2 separate regions of the Homo sapiens genome follow, and region 1 is linked to region 2. Evidence: fine-mapped expression QTL. A gene starts in region 2. The other region holds a variant in brackets. All regions are shown on one strand. Distances are from middle to middle.

Region 1 (2,910 bases), 52 kb before region 2:
GCAGACTAAGCAGCTGTTTAATTTGTGAGCTTTCACTATGGTTTGTCACCAACTGTCAATTCATCAACACTAAGTACCTACTCTGTGCTAGACACTGTGGATAAAAAGACCAAGACTTTTTTTTTTTCAACTTTTATTTTAAATTCAGGGAATACATGTGCAGGTCTCTTAATGGTTATATTGCATGATGCTGAGGTATGGGGTACAATTGATCTTGTCACCCAGGTAGTGAGCATAATTCCCAATAGGTAGTTTTTCCTTGCCTCTCACTCTTTTGCAGCCCCCAGTGTCTATTGTTCCCATCTTTGTGTCCATGCGTACCCAATGCTTAGCTCCCACTTTTAAGTGAGAACATATATTTACTTTTGTTCCTGTATTAATTCGCTTAGGATAATGGCCTCCAGCTTTATCCATGTTGCTGCAAAGGGCATACTTTTGGGTTTTCTTTATGGCTGCATAGTATTCCAGGGTGTATATGTACCACATTTTCTTTATCCAGTCCACCGCTGAAGGGCACCTGACTTGATTCCATGTCTTTGCTATTGTGTATAGTGCTGCGATGAACTTATGAGTGAATGCATCAAAAAGACCAAGTTGAACTTATGAGCGAATGCATCAAAAAGACCAAGACTTGATCCCTTGCCCACAAAGATACAAGGCTGTGAGTTTTCATTATCTGCTCTGATCACTTTGTTTACTGTGGTGGTTCTCAAAGTATCAATATCAGTATCACTTTACACATAAAAGAAATGCAGGGCTGGGAGCGTGGCTCACGCCTATAATCCCAGCACTTTGGGAGGCCGAGGCAGGCGGATCATGAGGTCAAGAGATCGAGACCATCCTGGCCAACATGGTGAAGCCCGTCTCTACTAAAAATACAAAAATTAGCTGGGCGTGGGGCCACATGCCTGTAGTCGCAGCTACTCGGGAGGCTGAGGCAGGAGAATCGCTCGAACCCGGGAGGCAGAGGTTGCAGTGAGCCAAGATCGCGCCACTGCACTCCAGCCTGGCAACAGAGCGAGACTCTGGCTCTAAATAAATAAATAAATAAATAAGAGGCCAGGCGCGGTGGTTCATGCCTTCAATCCCAGCACTTTGGGAGGCAAAGGCAGGGGGATCACTTGAAGTCAGGAGTT[C/T]GAGACCAGCCTGGCCAACATGGTGAAACCCCACCTCTACTAAAAATACAAAAATTATCCAGGTGTGGTGGCATGTGCCTGTAGTCCCAGCTACTTGGGAGGCTGAGGCAGAATCACTTAAACCTGGGAGGCAGAGGTTGCAGTGAACCAAGACTGCACCACTGTACTCCAGCCCGAATGACAGAGTGAGACTCTGTCTCAAAAATAAAATAAAATAAAATAAAAGTAATTAAATTAGAATTTCTGGGGGCAGGGCCTGAGGCATTGGTTCTTGTTTTAAATATGGTTAAAAAGACATTCAACAAATGCTCAGCATACTGAATGAAATCCTGCTACATAGTAACATAGTGGTTCTGGAGTATCACAGGATACTACTTTGCTTTTCCAAGTGTTTGTTAGGAATGACTGAGGTAAATGCATGTTAGTGGCCGGGCACGGTGGCTCAGTGGCTCACACCTGTAATCCCAACATTTTGGGAGGCCAAGGCAGGCAGATCACTTGAGGTCAGGAGTTCGAGACCAGTCTGGGCAACATGTCTCTATAAAGTTTTTTTAAAAATTAGGTGGGCGTGGTGGTACATGCATGTGGTCCCAGCTACTCGGAAAGCTGAGGTGGGAGGGTCGTTTGAGCCTGATCAAGGGCAGAGGTTGCAGTTGGGCAACAGAGCCAGACCCTGTCCTTTTTAAAAAAAAAAAAAAAAAAAAAAAACATGTTGGTGTTGAGGAGTAAGAGCTGGGAGAAAGGAGAACTGGGTTCTAGGCCTAGTTCTGCTCCTAACTGTCTGGAGGGCTTTGAAGAGGACACTTTCCTTCTTTCAATATACAAACATTTATTTATCTACTCTGTGTCAGGCTATTAAGACAATAGAGAAATCCAACTAAGACCTCTGAAATCTCTTTCCCATTCAAAGACTCCATTGATTAAGAACCACAACACACAGCTATAGAGGAGAAGGCAGGCTAAAAGCATCTAACTTTATTCTTTTTGAATTTAATAAATAGATACTAAAGTGCTTAGGATGTACTATAATCTTATAAGGCTTCAAGTAGAAATTTATATTAAGTCGTTTCAAATCTGTGGCGTGAACAAAAACTGTCAAAAGCCTTCAGAAAGCAGAGATTTCCCATGTCCTAACATATAGTGAAACAGAGGTACAATAGGTAAAACAAATCTATCAACATAGATTGAACTATGGATGAGTGGGTGAGATTTTTCGCCCAAACATTGTTTTCTTATCCCTTTCTTTTTTTTTCTCCAAGATAGTCACATTGTAAGTCTTTTCATGAGTTGTGTACTGAAAACAGAGGGAAGCTGATGGGGTCCCAGTACTTTACGATTATCAGCTCCCAATCTTCAGGGGGAACGAAAATAGAATCCTAAGAGGTCACAAGCAGACTCTACTGGGATCCAAAATTCAGTGATATAACTTGTAGCTACAGCTACTGCCAAAAATATTTTTCCATTTCAGTTTATTTTTTCAACAAATATTGAGTGCCTACTATGTGCAGGCACTGGTCTAGGTATTGGAAAACAGGAATAAACAAGGTAAGTGCTCTTCTGGCACTTAAAATCTAGAGGGGAAATCAACAATAAGTAAAAGTAACTTCACATGGTGATATATGCACTGAGAAAATAAACAAGGGTAATAGACTAGTGATGGGAAGCACGGGGGGTATATTAGAGGTCACATTGCCTTATTACAGATAGGCAGCAGGGGCTACTGGACAGGAGGCAGATCTTTTTTTTTTTTTTGATACAGAGTCTCCATCTCAGG
Region 2 (2,910 bases):
TCCCACAGTGTCAATGCAGCTAACCAACCATACATCTAGCTCAAAAATTGTTAAAAGAATTGAACTGGTAACCTGTCTCAAAGCAAAAGAAAAAAAAGTAACAGCATTTTACATTTGGGAGGTGTTTTATATCCTGAGAAAATCTGGGTTCAGAGACTCTTTTTACTGTATTACAAGGGCTAACTGAGGCTGGGAGACAGGAAGTGACCGAGGGCCGAGCGTGAGTTGGCAGCAGGGCCAAAGGTTGAAGCTTGATCTCAGAACAGCACTCCCGGCTTTCCCCATCCCCGACCCGGGCCGAGCCTCAGGGCTGGCTCCGCCCTAAAGCTTGCGGGGACGGGGCTCGAGAGTGCCAGCGGCAGCCCACAGCACGCCTAAAATAACACCCCGCCCCACGGGCCTCCTTTCTAGAGTAAAGACACGTTCGGTGACAGTGCGGAGTTTAGGGAACCAGAGGGAAGGCGCGGAGAAGAAAAATAGGTCTCTCCTTCAGACAACTGTGGGCGCACACGGCCTCTAACCCAAATCCGCGCTCCTGCTGCCTTCACCTGCCACACGATCAGCGACACGCTAACCTCTGCGCGCTGGGGGACCCCCAAAGGTTGGCCTCCGGGATCCCTCTCCCAGCCCACTCTAGAGACGAATCTGGTCCCCAAAATGTAAGAAAAGAAGGGGCGCAGGAACAAAGCGACCTCAAGCGGTGGCCCCCAAGGCGGGCGGGCGCGGACTACAAGTCCCGGCACGCCGCGCGCCGGCGGCCCTCGGCCACTGCCACGCGGGCGGCGCGGTGGCCGCCGGGACTCGTAGTCTGCGGCTCGGCGACTCCGCGGGGCGCGGACTAGGGGCGGCGGGACAGGCCGGCCCGCATCCCGTCAAGCCCCAAGGAGCCCGCCTGCTGCCCGGGCCTCACCTCGACGATGCGGGCGCACTGGGTCCCCTTGCCGGCGCCGGGGCCGCCGAGGACGAACACGACCAGCGGCTTCATGAGACGTGGAGAGCAGAGGAGAATCGGCCGGCGGGTCTGCAGCAGGAAGCTAAGGCCCAGGACGTGGAGCAGCCCGCTGCGGCAGCGGCTCAGCATACACCGCGCCTCGGCCGGACGCTGAGGGAGCTGACAGCGGCCGGCGCGGCGCGGGGCGGGGCGGGGAGGCGGCGGGAGAAAGGGGCGGGCTGAGCCGGCGCCCGCCGCGGCCCCGCCGCCGTGGCTGCCCGGGCGTCCGCGGCCCTGTCGGAAGGGGAGGAGCTTCGCACGGCGGCGGCGTCTCGGCGACACTCGTGCGGTCCGCGCCAGCTTTCCTCCAACCCTTGGGTGGTTATTAGTGCTTTCTGACTGCAGATATTTTATCCTGCGCCCTCAAGTGTCTGGTGCTGAGCTGGAGGCTGGGACGTGATCCGCGGGAGAGCAAAACCTATTGTCTCTGCTCGCAATGAGTTTCCATTCCAGCCAGTGAGGTATGGGGAGGTAGCCAGTGTGAATGAGTAAACACCAGTACATACAAAAGGCAGTACGATTTTGAAGAAATAACAAGTAGGACATAAGATGGCCAGGGTCGCCAGAGAAGGCTTCAGAAGAGGTGACATTCAAGCCAAGACAAAAGGATAGAAAAGAGCGAAACCAGGCAAACACCAGGATAGAGTGTCCCACAGAGAAAAGCATGTGCAAAAAATCTAAGTTGGTTTGGCATGTTAAAGCAATTGAAGGAAGGCCTGGCTGGGCGCGGTGGCTCACGCCTGTAATCCCAGCATTTTGGGAGGCTGAGGCAGGAGGATGGCTTGAGCCCAGGAGTTCGAGACCAGCCTGGACAACATGACGAGACCCCGTCTCGACCAAAAATTTAAAAGCCGGGCACCGTGACCCGTGCCTGTGATCCCAGCTACTGGGATGTTCACTTGAGCCTAGGAGCCGTAATAGCACCACTGCACTCCTGCCTAGGTGACAATGAGACTGCTTCAAAAAAAAAAAAGGAAAAAAGGCCAGTGACAGTGAGACCAGGGCTGAGTCAAATGAGGGGAGAATGGAAGGTGAAAAGTTGAGAAAGTGAGGTCGGTGGCAGATCAGGACTTTTGATTATGGAAAGGAATTTGGGCTGTATTCTAACAGCAATGGAAGCCCTTTAACTCCGTTCGCCTGCCCCCTTCATTAGGGAAGAATCTTAAGGGAGAAGAAAAGGAGACGTTCAAGAACTGAGCCTTGGTGCATACAGGCCTTTAAAAGGCCTTCTGGCCAACGTTAAGAGCTCATTTGATATTTGAGGTAACGGATTCAAAATAATTGAAGATGTTTGGCCATTCAGGCACAGGCAGAGAAGGCAGCTTGTTGCATTTACTGAGGGTTGGGATTTTGCCTGGCAAGTACAACAGAGAGAGGGGGCCAAGTGATGAGAGTGTTTGGAAGAGAATGTTCATGATGCTGTGTGTAGAATCAAAACCATACAGGAAAGCAAATAATGGCACATGAAGCCTGGTAGTGGAGGGGTTGGAGGGTGGTGGGGAAAGGGACCAATGTCTTAGAGCATTGGCCCAAGAAAGATTGCAGTGGGGTATATGAGCAAGTGCTCTGGCAGTATGGATGCTGCTGGTCTGAGTGGGATATTTGGAATTGAAATGTCCCAGCTTCTGAGTTTCTGATGATGCCAAGGTCCAGGGTGAGACCATGGGAATGGAAGACTGAGGCAGAATGCATGTCCTGTTTTTAGAACTAAGAGTCCAGGGTGTTAGATTTGTCGTACAGGTACAAGTTCAAGTCAGATAGTGCTGGAGTGAACAAAGACTATGGGAAAGGAACTAAGCTGTTTAGGGCAGAGTGACCAGGACGTTAGTAAACGAAAGCAAACAGGAGAGGAAGATAGTGGTATAGCCCTCTGTCTGACCACCCCCATTCTCCTTTTTCTTTTGGTGGTCCTTTCTTAG

What was found. PIP is the estimated chance that this variant, and not a neighbour inherited with it, causes the effect.
Region 1: its variant is fine-mapped to the expression of CMPK1 in blood mononuclear cells (TOPMed, PIP above 0.99).

Annotation. Positions count from the first base shown.
Region 1 is chr1:47,383,999-47,386,908 of GRCh38, reverse strand. It overlaps LINC01389 (long intergenic non-protein coding RNA 1389), which reads left to right. Exons shown (of 5, transcript NR_126355.1): 4 at 553-661. Among named protein-coding and RNA genes, the nearest start is that of FOXE3, 31 kb to the left of the region's middle. The variant C/T (reference allele first, on the strand shown) is at 1,137.
Region 2 is chr1:47,332,117-47,335,026 of GRCh38, reverse strand. CMPK1 (cytidine/uridine monophosphate kinase 1) reads right to left here and starts at 1,237. Exons shown (of 6, transcript NM_016308.3): 1 at 911-1,237. The coding sequence starts at 1,081. RefSeq lists enhancers at 115-174, 1-494, 495-1,298 and a silencer at 685-1,324.